3 separate regions of the Homo sapiens genome follow, and all the other regions are reported to be linked to region 3. Evidence: microRNA targets listed by miRTarBase, many of them from high-throughput screens and not tested one by one. Region 3 holds a microRNA gene; each other region holds the end of a gene's coding sequence.

The links. Region 3 holds the annotated microRNA hsa-miR-5197-5p (CAAUGGCACAAACUCAUUCUUGA, at 3,266-3,288, opposite strand). A microRNA usually pairs through its seed, bases 2 to 8, with sites in the 3' UTR of a target mRNA and lowers its output. Matches are read on the target gene's strand: a 7mer-m8 pairs with bases 2 to 8, a 7mer-A1 pairs with bases 2 to 7 and ends in A, and an 8mer does both.
Region 1: the mRNA of SLC35G2 is a reported target of hsa-miR-5197-5p. Seed matches in the 3' UTR shown: 7mer-m8 at 566-572.
Region 2: the mRNA of STAMBPL1 is a reported target of hsa-miR-5197-5p. The part of its 3' UTR that is shown has no 7-base or 8-base seed match.

Annotation. Positions count from the first base shown.
Region 1 is chr3:136,855,181-136,860,413 of GRCh38, forward strand. It overlaps SLC35G2 (solute carrier family 35 member G2), which reads left to right. Exons shown (of 2, transcript NM_025246.3): 2 at 1-708. The coding sequence ends at 519. The region is part of intron 1 of NCK1-DT (NCK1 divergent transcript); the gene reads right to left. Among named protein-coding and RNA genes, the nearest start is that of NCK1-DT, 4.3 kb to the right of the region's middle.
Region 2 is chr10:88,922,596-88,927,793 of GRCh38, reverse strand. STAMBPL1 (STAM binding protein like 1) reads right to left here. Exons shown (of 11, transcript NM_020799.4): 11 at 4,307-4,626. The coding sequence ends at 4,570. Among named protein-coding and RNA genes, the nearest start is that of ACTA2-AS1, 7.5 kb to the left of the region's middle.
Region 3 is chr5:143,677,941-143,683,173 of GRCh38, reverse strand. It overlaps MIR5197 (microRNA 5197), which reads right to left and starts at 3,314; the gene lies at 3,203-3,314.

The sequences.
Region 1 (5,233 bases), not on the chromosome of region 3:
ATTGTTGATGAAGACAATTCTTTGTTAAATGCCTGGAAAGAAGCCTTTGGGTACACCATGACTGTGATGGCTGGACTGACCACTGCTCTCTCAATGATAGTATACAGATCCATCAAGGAGAAGATCAGCATGTGGACTGCACTGTTTACTTTTGGTTGGACTGGGACAATTTGGGGAATATCTACTATGTTTATTCTTCAAGAACCCATCATCCCATTAGATGGAGAAACCTGGAGTTATCTCATTGCTATATGTGTCTGTTCTACTGCAGCATTCTTAGGAGTTTATTATGCCTTGGACAAATTCCATCCAGCTTTGGTTAGCACAGTACAACATTTGGAGATTGTGGTAGCTATGGTCTTGCAGCTTCTCGTGCTGCACATATTTCCTAGCATCTATGATGTTTTTGGAGGGGTAATCATTATGATTAGTGTTTTTGTCCTTGCTGGCTATAAACTTTACTGGAGGAATTTAAGAAAGCAGGACTACCAGGAAATACTAGACTCTCCCATTAAATGAATACCTGATTATTATTGTCTCATTAATGTTCAGTTATTATGTATACTGCCATTTTAATGTTTACCTATGAATGTCTTTTGTGTTATATAACTGACAGAGTGCTATAAAATATATAATATATACAAATGCAGAAAATTTATTCTAGTCTAATATATTCAAATACAAATATTAAATATATGAAATACGTTATGAATCTGGTATCTTTATTGGTATTTATGGGTGTCTTTCCAGGTAAATTGTAGTAGAAGGAGAATGTTAACTGCTATTACTAAATAATAGAAGACTCAAAGAAATGACCCCTTTCAGATGGAACTGAAGTTCAAAAATTAGAAATGTTCTACAAATGTTCAACAAAACTCCTTCATTTGTGAAAAATACACTATAAGGTGAAATGTTGAACACCAAACCCTGTTTTGTCATCTACTTGCATTAGAAAACTAGAAGTCATAGGGCTGGGTAAAGGAGCCTGGGTTGAGGCAAGAAAAGAGGAAAGAAGGGAAAATAAGTGGTTTTTTAATGACAATGGGTGGCTGTCCAAAGTTAGAACAGGAAATTGGTTTTCTCCTTATTATGAGCACATTAGGCGATACATAGGAAATAGAAATAGGGAGAAGTGTGGATTCTTGCCAGTCCTACCTAGCCCATGCCATTTTGTCCCTGATGTTTGGAGACCTAACGTTGGGGTAGGGTCTGCTTATCCTCAGTTATGTAGATCTCTTCCAAGGCTGCCCTTGTTTATGATTTTGTGGCTAGTGTATGTGTGAGCTGCAGTAAAAGTACTCCTTACTCCTGAAAAAGGCACCAACAGTAATCATAATGTAGCAGAAAATTGACATGGTATCCTGAGATTCTTTTCAAAAAGGTCTAAAAGTCTGTAAAAGCACATATGATGGCATTAAGTCTAATTTTGGCCATTCTTACCAATTTAGCACAAATAAATGATATGGTACTGTTTATTAAACTATTGTCTCAGGTCCACATTCCCCCTTCTATACATTTCTCTGTAATGCTGTGGCTCAAACCCTGCAAACTACATTTTTTTCTATGTCAGCTGGTGTCTCACTAGGTTCCATCAATAAAGGGCATTAGAGGGAGACTGGAAGGCAGAAGGGAAGAAGGGACTTCCTCCTTTCCATTTGTTTGCAGTTTCTGTCACTGTTATCCCAGCAACAAGCAAGAGCCCTTTGCTCCAGCAGCAGCAATTGATTTCAGCCTTGAGCTTCTTTTGACATCCTCCCCATCCACAACTAGCCTCATCATATCCTTCCCTGAAGTAGTAGGATCAGCCAGACAGCATCCTCTCAGGGGTCTGAGCAATACTCAGCCAGGTCATTTGTCTGAGTTTCTGAGACCTGATAATCCACCTTGAGTCCCCATTTTCACTAGATCTATCATTGACAGCTGCTCCCTGCAGTTATCACCTCTGGGTAACCTCAGTGTTCCGTTTTTGCTTTTTCAGTCAATGAAAACTCAATACTAAATCCTCTCTGTAGTAATATCATCTAATTTCTGATTTCCTGACTAACATATCTCTAAACCTTCCCCAAAGGAAACTACAGCCATCAGCAGGGTACTGTGCTTTGGGAAAATGTCAACATTTAGATTTTTTCAGGGATTACTAGACAGTGGCTCTCAATAGAAATTATACAAACTGAAAAAAGAATGAACAGAGCCTGAATGACCTGTACTAAGTACTGAGAAGTCTAGCATGAGTGTAATTGTAGTCCCAGAAGAAGAGGAGAAACAGAATGGGACAGAAAAAAAAATTTGAAGAAATACTGGACAAAAGTCTTCCAAATTTGATAAAAAAAAAAAAAGAAAAGAAAAGAAAATGAGAAACCAGCAATCCACAGACCCAGGGAATGAAATGAACCCCAAGCAGGATAAATACAAAACCAAAACCAAAACAAACATCACAGTGTAATGAAACATCACAGTGTAATGAAACATCACAGTGTAACTTTTGATAAATATAATGAAAATCTTATAAGCATTCATAGAAAAAGACACCTAGAAACATCAGTGTTAACTTTTGATAAATATAAACAAAATCTTAAAAGCATTCATAGAAAAAGGCATAAGACATACAAGAAAACAATGATAAGAATTACAACTAGTTTCTCACAGATATAATGGAGGCTGGAAAACGAGAATGACATCTTTAAAGTGCTGAAAACAAAAACAAAAACCCTTTGAATGGCTTCTCATTGCCTATAGGATAAACTCTAAGGTGCCTGACTTCCATAACCTGGTTATTGATTATATTTCTAGCTATCTTCTGCTCTAGCAATATTCTACTATCGTTTAATACCTTTTTATTATGCAGGCTCCTCTATGTGGACAGATTTTTTCTAGTTAATTGCCTGACTAACCTGGCCACACAACTCCTTTCCCCTGTGGCTTAATGTCCTCCTTGCACTGGACTGTCTATAACAATTTCTAACTATAAGCTATCAGGTTTCTGGGAAAGGTCTTGACATGGAGGCTCATTTTTCCCTTTCTTGTGTTCCCAAATTCTTTTATTTTGGATTAATAAAGTAAGCCACCTGCGTGTTTTTAATCATAGACAGATTAGCTGCCCATATCCAAAGCTCCACGTGTAGTCCCTAGATAAGTTTTGTTTTTGTTTTGAGATGTGGTGTGATCATAGCTCATTGCAGCCTCAAATTCCTGGGCTCAAGCCATCCTCCCACCTCAGCCTCCAGAGTGGCTGGGACTACAGGCACATGCCACTATGCCCAGCTGATTAAAAAAAATTTTGTTTTGTAGAGACAGGGTCTAGCTCTGTTGCCAGGGCTGATCATAAGTTTTGACTTACATTTTCTTGTTGCCTGATTCTGGTTAGTCCCTGATCCACTCAGCACTAATTAGCAAGGATGATTCCTGTTTTTGGTTTGAGTTCCCCTGAAAGAGAGGAAGCAGCAGCCATGTGCATGTTTATATTTGGAAGCTGGGGAGACAGACTGTGTGAAAGGAAGTCTCTGGGACAGCTCCCACCCCATTAAAACATGTACTGCATCCCTTCTAAGTGCAATTACATACATGCCTTTCTGCCTATCTGCCCTTCCAGTCTATGCTTTCCTTTTTCATTGCTGTTTGCTTATTTTTCTTCTTTGACTCCTCTTTTGCATATATTTTTGGAGGTTTCTTAAATTTTTTTAAAGAGTTCCTGTTAAGAATGAGTGATGAGAAAGATTAAAGAAGGAAAATTAAGAGGATAAACTAGCTGGGTGCTGTGGCTCACGCCTGTAATCCCAACACTTTGGGAGGCTGAGGTGGGTGGATCACCTGAGGTCAGGGGTTTGAGACAAGCCTGGCCAACATTGTGAAACCCCGTCTCTACTAAAAATACAAAAAATTAGCCAGGTGTGGTGGTGTGTGCCTGTAGTCCCAGCAACTTGGGAGGCTGAGGCAGGAGAATTGCTTGAACCCGGGAGGTGGAGGTTGCAATAAGCTGAGGTGGTGCCACTGCACTCCAACCTGGGCAAAAAAGCGAGACTCCATCTCAAAAAACAAACAAACAAACAAAAACCCTAAATGTATGACTTCAGCATACTTTTTGCTGGGTTAATTTTCCCCACTTAAGGTGGTGGTAAGCTACATGAAGGCAAGAACTGTATTTCTGTATTTTACCTGTTGTATTTATATTCACACCTTCTGCCTCCATCGTATGTTAAATATGTAATTAGAATTAAAATTGAGTCACGCTGTGCTAACAGTTTGATGGGTGATTTTGCAGCAACAGTTTTAACTCTGGACAAGTTTCTTCAAAAATGAATATAATATCTCAGTCTGTAAACTTTATAAAATGTATCAACAAATAAAACCATTGTATTAGCTTGGGCTGCCATAATAAAATACTAGATTGGGTGGCTTACACAACAGAAGTTTATTTTTTCAAAGTTATGTAGGTTGGGAGGTCCAAAAGAGGGTGCCAGCATGGTCAGTTTTGGGTGAGGGCTCTCTCTCTGGCTTGCAGATGTCTGTCTGCTTGCTGTGTTCTCAAATGGAGAGAGCTCTCTGGTGCCACTTTCTATAAAGACATTAATCTTATGGGATTAGGGCCCCACCCTTATGACCTAATTTAATTTTTATTACCTCCCTAAAGGCCTAGCTCCAACTAGAGATGGTCCCTGACTTAAGATTTTTTTGACTTTATGATGGTCCAAAAGCCATATGCACTCTAGAATCTGTACTTTGAGTACCCATAAAACCATCCAGTTTTTCATTCAGTATTTAGTAGATTACATGAAATACTCAATACTTTATTAAAAAATAAGCTTTGTATTAGATGATTTTGCCTAACTGAAAGCTAATGTAAGTATTCTGAGCATGTTTTAGGTAGGCTACTCTAAGCTATGATGTTTGGTAGGTTAGAAGCATTAAATGCATTTCTGACTTAAGATCTTTTCAACTTAAGGTATTTTCAGTTTATGGTGGGTTTATTGGAACATAACCCCTTTGTAAGTTAAGGAACATTTATATAGTCACATTAGGAGTGAGGGCTTCAGTATGAATTTTTGGGGGGGATGCAATTCAGTCCATACCAGTCATGATAAAATATGCAGTTATTTAAACCCTTAGAATAAACTCAAAATTCACCGCCATTATTCACTTTGGATGCTAATAACAGAATGTAGACATAGAGTAGCTGTTGCCCAGTTTCATGGTCTACTTGTCCCAGTCAACCTGAGGATAGTACAGCATAAATAGG
Region 2 (5,198 bases), not on the chromosome of region 3:
GGTGCCCCCGCCATTAATATGCTGAAACCTCATCCTCGTTGCAATGGTATTTGGAGGTGGGGTCGTTGGGCGTTGGGAGATAATTAGGTCATGAAGGTAGGGTCAGGCCCTCGTGATAGTATTTGTGTCCTTATAAGCAGAGACATGAGAGATGATTTCTCTCTCCCCCATTTGAGGGTAGGGCAAGAAGGTAGCCATCTGCAAATAAGGAAGGGAGTCCTCATCAAGAACTGGACTATGCTGGCACCCAGATATCAAATTCCAGCCACCAGAACTGGGTGACAGAAATACAGTGTTGTTTACGTCACCCAGTTTATGGTATTTTTGTTGTAGCAGTCCAAATGAAGGCCTGCCTTTTGATAGTTTAAAAAACAACAACGTCTTCTTGGACATCAGTATGCTAAATCTCTAAGAGCCACTAAGTCATGTTTTCATCAGCTCTCCCCGAGATAATATATTCTGGCCTTATGAAGAACAAAAGAGTAGAAAAGAAAACAAATTTTAAGAAATTTGTTGCAAAGAGCAGAAAAGCTCTTTGCATCTTAGTTGTCTTCCCAGTAAATAACAAGCCAAATTCTTTTAAGAACAAGGAGTTGAAGGTTTACCTTTCTTTCTTAATCATTGCCAAATGCATGACATTTCTCACGCATTCTTTTCACAGAAGATATTCTCTTGCCAGATAATTCTGCAAGACATGCCAGAAGAGAAACATCTGCTTTCCACATTTAGGACCTCCTCAGCTGGTTTTGCAACAGAAACCTCAACCTAAGGTCAAATCATTGTAATAACACAGTCTCCAACACAGTTGATGTGGTTGCAATGTGAAATGAATTGGGAGAAAACAGAAGTGAACCAGTGTGGCGCCAAATAAAATGTCAAATTTCCACAAGCAAAATCCTACTAAAAAGAAACTAGGAACAATTTGAGTAGCTGAGAATAATCCACAAACATTCTGCTTTGCTCTTCTACAACTGACAAGGCCTATGGAAAGAATGATTTCTGCCCTGCATGACAACAAAGAAAGCCATTTCCAATTCAGTCTGTAAGAGAAAAGGAAACAAACAACTTCAGCAAATATTTACCGGATACTACATTAGTTTGTGAGGGCTGCCAAACAGAATACCACAGACCAGATGGCTTAAACAACAGAAAATTATTTTCTCACAGTTCCGGAGGCTGGAAGTCTGAGATCTAGGTTTTGGCAGGGATGGTTTCTTCTGAGATCTCTCTCTCTTTGGCTTGCAGATGGCAGTCTTCTTTCTGTTTTCCCATGGTCTTCCTTCTGTGTATGTCTGTCCTAATCTCTAATTATAAGGACACAACTCATACTGGATTAGTGCCCACTCTACTAGCCTCATTTTAACTTAATTATTTGTGTAAAGGCCCTATCTCCAAACTCAGTCATATTCTGAGGTATTGGGGGGTTAAGGACCTCAACACATGAATTTGGGGGACACAATTCAGCCTATAACAAATACACATGAGGTGTCAGGCACTGTGTGCAAACTGACTAGCACTGAAAATCAAAGGAAGTTCTTAATTGTTTCTTTTTTTTCTACAGAAACACAAATCTGAAAAGAAATGAAGAACCATCTTTGCCTTAGGATGTGGCAAATGGAGCTTTGGAACTGATTCATATTCAAAAGAAGGATCTCCTGCCCTAGCAACACAGCAAGACCTCATTTCTACAAAATAGAAAAAAAATAGCCAGGTGTGGTGGTGAGTGCCTGTAGTCCCAGCTACTCGGGAGGCTGAGATGGGAGGATCGCTTGAGCCTACGAGATCAAGGCTGCGGTGACCCATGATTATGCCATTACACTCCAGCCTGGGCAACAGTGTGAGACCTTGTCTCAAAAAAAGAGAAGGTGCTGTCTGCCTGTTGTGAAAGAGACCTTCCATAGATAGTTTATCCAATGAACACTGGTGCTCATGCACATGTGTGTGTAGTGGCGTCTCCAGGTTGGTTAACAGGGTCTCTGCCTCACGACCAGTCCATTACTTAGTGATGTGGTCACATTTCTGTTGGTTCTTTCAGACACAGCCCCAGGGCCTCATTCTGCCAGCCAAAGTCAGGCTCTGGTTTGCCGCCTCCAACAGTCCCACTCTGTGAGATCCTGGTTAATTTGGTTTGTACTTGGCAAAAAAAAAAAAAAAAAAAAAAAAAAAAAAACCTACAAAAAAGTGCCAAGAATGTCTCCTTTATTTAGGAAATACAATATACTTTCTTAGTGAAAATGAGTTCTCTTCTAGTTTGCTATTCAGAAGGGACATAATGGTTTTGCATACTCATAGCTTCTCTTTCTAGTCTTTCTGGAAATCTAAGATGCTAAATGTTCTTGGCCCTCAACTGAGTCCTTTCTATCTTTAGGCACCATTCAATGTCCATAGCTTTTTCATCGGACAACTCTCATTTTACATCCTCTTAGTGTATTACTATAATTTTTAATTCTATACAAAGGATCTCACTCATTTCTCAACTATCCATTGTCCCAACAATTATTTTTACTTGAATAAAGAATATAACATTTTCCTTTGATCAAGCATATCAGAATATCATGGTGTGTTTAAGTGTTAAGACACTGAGGACAGCACCACTCAGGAAAAAGTGAGGTGTCTATGGAGCCAGCCTTGCAGAGTTAATCTGCTCTTAACTAGTGGTGGCCATAGACTAAAGTCTCCATGCACAAGGCAAGCCAAGCTCTACTTCTGAAGTCTGATACCTGAGCTCTCCATAGCTAGAAGATTCCATGAAACAGAAACAAGCCACTGACTTGCCCATAGTAGGTGGTTCTGTATAAATGAGAACAGGAACAGAATTCAGGTGACATGATACCAGAATTGAGAACTAGACAAGCAGGGAGGGTTGATGCATTAGTCCATTCTCATGCTACTATAAAGAACTGACCAAGGCTGAGCAATTTCTAAAGGAAAGAGGTTTAATTGACTCACAGTTCTGCATTGCTGGGGAGGCCTCAAGAAACTTAAAATCATTGCGGAAAGGGAAGCAAAACACGTCCTTCTTCACATAATGGCAGGAAGAAGTGCTGAGCAAAAGGGAAAAAGCCCCCTATGAAACCATCAGATATCCTGAGAACTCACTCACTATCATGAGAACAGCATGGAGGTAACCACCCCAATGATTCAATTACCTCCCACCAGGTCCCTCCTACTATGATTTAAGATGAGATTTGGGTGGGGACACAGCCAAACCATATCAGATGTTAACCCATCCAAGCACAGAGTACAGGAAATACCACTCTGGAATATGGAAATCATTGAACTAAGCAGTGGAAGCTAGTACATGGAAACATGAGTTGTTTAGGCAACTCAGATACAATGTCATGAGGAAAGCAAAGGCAGGGAGAGCTGTGGCTGGCACAGAAGACATTGGGAAGACAGAAGGTTTCATAGGATTAGTTTGGCCCTGTTGAAAAGTTGTGGAGATCCAGGGAGAGATGGCTGGAGAAGGAAACTTAAACGTTGAAAAGAAAAAAGAAGAAAGCTAGACTAGAGTAATGTAAGGCCCTAAAGGATGAAAAGGGAGACTAAGAAGTGATCACAAGTTTCTCGATCAAGGAAAGGGCTGTCAGCCCAGGATTTCCCAATGTGCCTGGGAGCAATGTCTTCCAAGATAAAGATTTCACCTGCAGAACTAGTCTTCAGTGTCCCAAAGGACCTATTCTCAAATAACTCAACAATATCACTTCCATTCTGCCCTCTGTGTATCTGCAGCTAAGATTTCTCCACACTGTTTCCATCCTCAGGTTTTTCCTACCAATTCAACTTGCTAACAGAGTTAGCAAGTTGACTAAGAATTATCAGTTATTTCTTATGTCTCATTTCTTCTTCCTATCACCCCTGTTCATTTTCACAGTAACAGGTTTTGTACTTTTATCTGAGTCTTTTTTTAAAAAAAAAATCCTCTCTCAAGCTTCTCTACTTTTAGTCTTCTAAATCAAATTAATGAATTGTCTGCTATCCCAGGCCCTCTGACACCTGATCCCTGAATAGAAGTGTTGTTCTTGTATCTTACACAATGATTCACTGCAGAGATATCTCTCTGAGCCTGGGATTTCATGACACTGAAAACACAGAACAAGCTTTATCAATGGCAGCCATATTTCATCTACACATGGAAGCTGTTCACCTACCTCAGGGGAAGGTTTCAGAAACAGATGGTCTGCTTTGGAGACTATATACACTCAGAATTTCTTATTTGGAATTACATTTTACATGAATAAAAAATATAGCAAATCATCTAAAGCTCTAAAAATGTATGCAGAGACCTCTATAAATACAAGACATGTTGTTTGCAGCACAATTTATTATCTGGCCATAGTATTTGGGTACATTATCAGGTACCGATTTAACACCATGTAACCTCTCTTGACACAGAGCAACCCAAAAAGAAAACTTTAAAATGTGCAACAGCAATAAATATCAAGCTTTGTCATCTAAAATGTATAAATATAAAATATCAGTCATTTCTGGAAACATCTTAAGAAAATCCGGCAACCACATGTCCATGAGTAGGTGTCTGATGTTGACGGTGCTTACATTCAGAACATATCACCTCAGATCCAACACAATTATTTTTATGTCTTTTACCAACACATGTTTGCATATCTAGGAAAGAAAAAATTGGTTTTACCATATGTTTGATTTCACCATAATGTTTACCATATGATTTTCTTTAGGGAGGAAGTATAGATTTCCTAATTTTAATTTGTTCCTGATTTTTAAAATATTTCCAATCAGAACAAATACAATCACATTTATTCATTTTCAACAACAACAAAAATATTTACAGGGGTTGCCAAATAATTTTCATTTTAAGTAAATTCTAACGTCAATATAATGTTCTCTGATGTTATAGCCACAGAACCTCCAAGAAAATTAGGAAAAAAAAAGGCGTAGTCAAATGTTTCTTTTGGACTATGCAAAGGTAATCAAGAAGTATGATCATAGTTTCCATCAATTGCTATGAAAAAACTAATTTGGCCATATCAAGCAGAAAGAATTCATGCAACATTTTAAATGTCATTTTCTATGATAATTGTTTACTTATTTGGACTCTGAAGAAAACTTTTAAATATCATACATATACATAAGCGGAAAGGTAACTTTGTGCACCATTAATTCTGCTACAGAAATACTGATGTTTCCTTGTAAATACAATTATTTTGAGAATAAATCAG
Region 3 (5,233 bases):
CTTTGGGAGAAGAAATGGTGGGCGTGATTCCACACAGATATCTTGGCAGGCTGATAAAGACCACCTTCCAAGCTCCCCAAGCTGGAGCCTTCCCTAAAACTAGCCATGCACAGCTCAGTCTTGCTGTAGTTTGCATGCCTGCAGCAGATTCCCTTCTTTAAGAAGTCTCTGCAAATCAGGCCCAGACAGACTCCATCGCCTATTCACCTAAAGTTCACTAGGCAATGTGCCTGGTGTCATTTGAGCAAGCTGCTTGGCAGCCAATTTTTTTTTAATGATATGATTGCCCAGGCTTTCAAATCCCATTATGAAACTGTTTATCCTTTAATCAGAGCTTTAAAAAAAAATTGACATTTTAGTTTGATGGAAAGAGATGTTGAGGAGAAATATTTGGAAAATTGCTCTATGGGGCCAGATGATGCAGTGAGTCACAATCACTGAACATATTTTGCAGGGAGGAGGTCTGTGGTTGTCCCCATTCTTCCCTGTCCCAGAGCTCTTAATGACAGGCAGTCACTGGCTATTAAGGAAATCAATCCTACCATGGATAGGAAGAAGGTAGAACTAATTCCCAGGACAGCTATGAGATTCATTAGAAGAGTTATTAGGAAGAGAGGCCCACCCAGGCCCTGCCTTAGGGCCCCCTCCACCCTAGTGACAGAAAACAAGGAGGCCCCTAGCTATGTCCTACGTTGCATTCCAAACCCTGCATTGATGCAGCTTGTCTGTTATTGGAAACAGTTACCAGCCAACAGCAGAGTGTTATGCCTGCTGCTTCACTACAGCCACACATAACTTCAGGGCTGCAATATGATCTGCTTCACACAGAGGGAAGGGAGTATGTAGTACATTATACGTACCCAAAGTCAAAACAGGGGACTCAGGATTGGCTTTAAGAGAAACAGTTACATATTTCCATAAACATTCTCTGAGCTGCTCTCAGCTGTTGGGTTTTCTCACATCCACTTATCTAGAGAAAGCTTTGGGTGATACCACAGCATGGCACCCTTGTCCCCTCAAAAGCCCACACACATTTGACTGACTAGGAGAAGTGGGTGTAGGACCCTGGGGCATTTAGCCTCATAAGAACAAGAAAGTTATTTTTTATCACAGCTGAGACCTGGCATCTAGTGTGATGCCTGGCACATAGTAGGAATGAATGAATATAGATGGCACACAATCACTGAATGAGCCATCCCTCCCTCCCCAACCTCTTCCTCTCCCTGTCTTCCCCATTCCACTGCCTCCCACCTTTATTTCTTCAAAAGCAGGGGAAAAATCAGAGTATAAGATCTGGTCATGAAACAGAAAGAGTCAATGTTAGGTGACTAAGAGATAGAAGCAATGTCTGTGTTAGTTAAGAATATGAACTTGGGGATGGGCGCGGTGGCTCACGCCTTTGGGAAGCTGGGGCAGGTGGATCACGAGGTCAGGAGTTCGAGACCAGCCTGATCAACATGGTGAAAGCCTGTCTCTACTAAAAATACAAAAATTAGCCGGGCATGGTGGCATGCACCTGTAATCCCAGCTACTCAAGAGGCTGAGACAGGAGAATCACTTGAACTCGGGGGGCGGAGGTTCCAGTGAGCTGAGATTGCACCACTGCACTCCAGCCTGGGTAACAGAGCAAAACTTCATCTCAAAAAAAAAGAATATGAACTTGGGAGTCAGGTAAACTTAAATTTAACTTTTATCCTTTGCCACTTGTTAGTTGAATGACCTTAAACAAATTACTTACTAGTCCAAGCTTATTTTCTCATTTAGAAAGTGGGTCTAATAATAGTACCTACCTCATATACTTGTGATAAGGATTAGAGATAATGCCTGAAAGTACTTGGCACGCTACTTCAGACTTTAGTATTCAATAAGTGTTAGCTGCTTTTGTTATCTTTCCATATGCTCATTAATACTATGTGGGAATCAACCCAACTAAGCGACCACAGACAGACCTGCATCCCTCTGAGAAAAACTCCTACCTCATCCATCTCTGAAGCAACTGAAGTCTCTAGAATTATTCTTGGTACAGATTTGACCATTTATTAGCTTGGTTTCCATGGTTACATTAGCCAACCTTTGGGCTTTCGCGTCTTCATTGTAAACAAAGATGGCCACTCTATGTACACACCAAGATAATCACATGTGAAAATGATTGTAAAGAGTCCTAAGAGCAAATATGAGTTTTCAGTTTATGCTCTTGTCTAGAGAGCTAATATTTTAGGATTAGGTTAGGGAGTGGGAAGGAATATAAACATCTGGGAGCACTGTGTAATGTGTATCCAAAGACATTTATCCCAACATCACTGACTCATACACATCAATGAATTGAAGGGTTTGTCATTCATAACAATTATGCCAACCATTCTAGCTGCGTATAATCAGTAAACCTGTTTTCTTTGGAAAGCTGAAGAAGTCACATGGTCTCCATTTTCATTCCAGTGATGTTCCATGGTGGTTTTAAAAATTCAGGGGCTAGGGTTAGATAATTTAAAAAAGGCCCAGCACGGTGGCTTGTGCCTGTAATCCCAGCACCATGGGAGGCCAAGCCAGGTGGATTACCCGAGGTCAGGAGTTCCAGACAAGCCTGGGAAACATGGTAAAACCCTGTCTCTACTGAACATACAAAAAATTAGCCAGGCATGGTGGTACACACATGTAGTATTAGCTACTTGGGAGGCTGAGGTGGGAGGATCACTTGAACCCGGGAGGCAGAGGTTGCAGTGAGCCAAGATTATACCACTGCACTCCAGTGAGACTCTATCTCAAAAAAAAAAAAAAAAAAAAAGAGAGAGAGAGAATTAAAAACAAAAAAAACCTCAGGCTATATTTCTACCAGTGGACAGTCATTTTTCTCATACACAGTAAAGCAGTGTATATATAAAACAAAGTAACATGAATGGAAATGAAATAGCCAAGAAGGGAAAAGGGAATAGTGGATACAATCATCTTCATAGTTCAATTAATATTCTACCATGCCAAGAATTTTGCATATATTATCTCAACTCTTGCCTGTAAGTAGATACCATCATCTCCATGTTACACAGGAAGAAGAAATTAAGGCTTACAGAGGTTAAGTAATTTGGCCAAGGTCACAGACCTGTGAAGTGCAGAACACTGCCCTCTTTTAATGTCTGCTTTTCTTGTTTTGTTTTCTTGGATGGTTGAGTGGAACTGGCCACTCTGAGTTACCCTCTGTGTTGACAGAACATGAGGTGAAGTGACATTTAGAGCATTCGATGACTCAGTCTCTTCTTGAACTGGCAAAAATTCAAGAATGAGTTTGTGCCATTGATACTCATTGTCTGTGGAATCCCATACAGTTCTTCCCTAGCTGTAGATCAGGGTCAATCTGCAGTGACAGAACATTCTACTTCTCTAACATACCATCAGTTTTCTCTTATCACTGTAATGATCTGTTGGGTGACCTTCCATCAATCAGTCTGCTGTTCAGTTTCCTTCATTGTCATTTATGAAGCGTATCCTATAAGTAAAGCCCATTTATACTGGGCACATAGGAGACAGAAAAGTGAAAGAGATTATCCCTGCCTCCCCACGAGAAACTACTCTAGTGGAATTGACATGAATAACTAGGTAGGTAGAGAGAAATAGATGGATGAGGAGACTATGACAAATATGAGAATAAAGGCTAGAATAGTTTGCTATACAAGCAGGAAAGGGAGGGTGCTAGCTTGAAGGTGGGGATCTGAAAAGCCATCTTGAAGAGGCAGAATTTGATCTGGGCTTTGAAAGAAGGATGAGGGGCAAATCTTGGAGAAGGGTCGTGCTACCAAGCAGACAGGACTGTCTTGATTATCCAGCTCATAGATGGCCATCTTGTCCTCTTTTTCACTGGGCTCAGGAATAGTCTGAGCTGCTTTCTCCATACTGCAGCCCAAGGGATCACCACCAATTCTACATAACTGGTTGGTATAAGGAATGAATCCTCTTGACCATCCCTGATTTACCCCTATAGTGGCTCTGCAGGAAGGAATGTTAAGCCAAGTAATCGGGGAATTGTTGTATCCCACAGACCTGAGTAGATGACTATTTGGATTTAGAGAGGGTCTTTCAATAAAAATAAAGTACACAACAAATATAAGTACCTACTTATAGACATGTCCTTGGAACCTCTTACCTCATTCCTTACCTCTCTCTCATCTATGCTTCTCATGGTACTTTATTTAACAGAGACATTTGTTATTCACCTACTTTGTGCAGGGCTCTTTGCTAGGTATCATACAAAGATGTATAAAATATGCCATCTGTTCTCGAGGAACCATCAATTTATGGAAGTATAAGACCTACATTCAGAAAACTATACAAGTCCATATAATCAGAAGGTCATGTGCATTGGCATTTTGAAGTTCTACACTCTCCCATCTCTATAAAGTAACTGGCTTGAAAAAAACAATCTGCCTCCAAAATGTAGGGTATGGTCTCAGGAGAAAGTGACTCACACAAAAAGATGATGACTTTTTGTTCTTCTGCTGTCTCAGAATTTTTCTATCTGTATGATTCCACATTCAAATTCAAGTTTTGAGATGAATACCCAGTTCCCTTTGTATTGGGTGACATTCTATGCTATTAATCTCAATTGATAATTTTATCTGTGTAATGGCTTCTAAGTATGAAAAAAACAAAAAAATTCCTCTCCGATATTAAAGTTGGGAACCAAATAGAATAAATGTTTTACATCTGACCCAAGCATGTAGTGGAAAAATACAGAACCTGTATTTTCAAATCATTTAAATGAAACATGAAATTGAAACAGAAAGTCAATAACCAAATTAATCATCTTATTACAAAGAAAATGTAACCTGCTTCATTACTGTAATGGCAAACATCAATAGAGTAGAAAATTGACCAGTTTTCTTACATTAGAAAAAAATCTGATTCCTGGTTGCCTAGGAAGCTCTACTCATATTAGTCTTTATTGCATCTTCTGTAATGAATTAAAGCCTGTAAGGTCTCATTAGCACATTACTAATGTAAGTTTTAAAAGCCATATTAAATAACATAAAATGTTACAGTATGAATGTTGTGAGGCTGAGTGTTAAGAGAACAAATTTACATTTTACTATTTTGAAAGTGAACCCATTTGGTTTTGAAGATATTCAACAGCACATGTAAAATAACCAAGAACTTTATCCAAATTAAATAGCAAGTTGGAAATAAGGGATGTAAGTCTAAGAGGGAAATGTTCACCTTTTATATCTAAAGCAAGTCTTCCCAGATA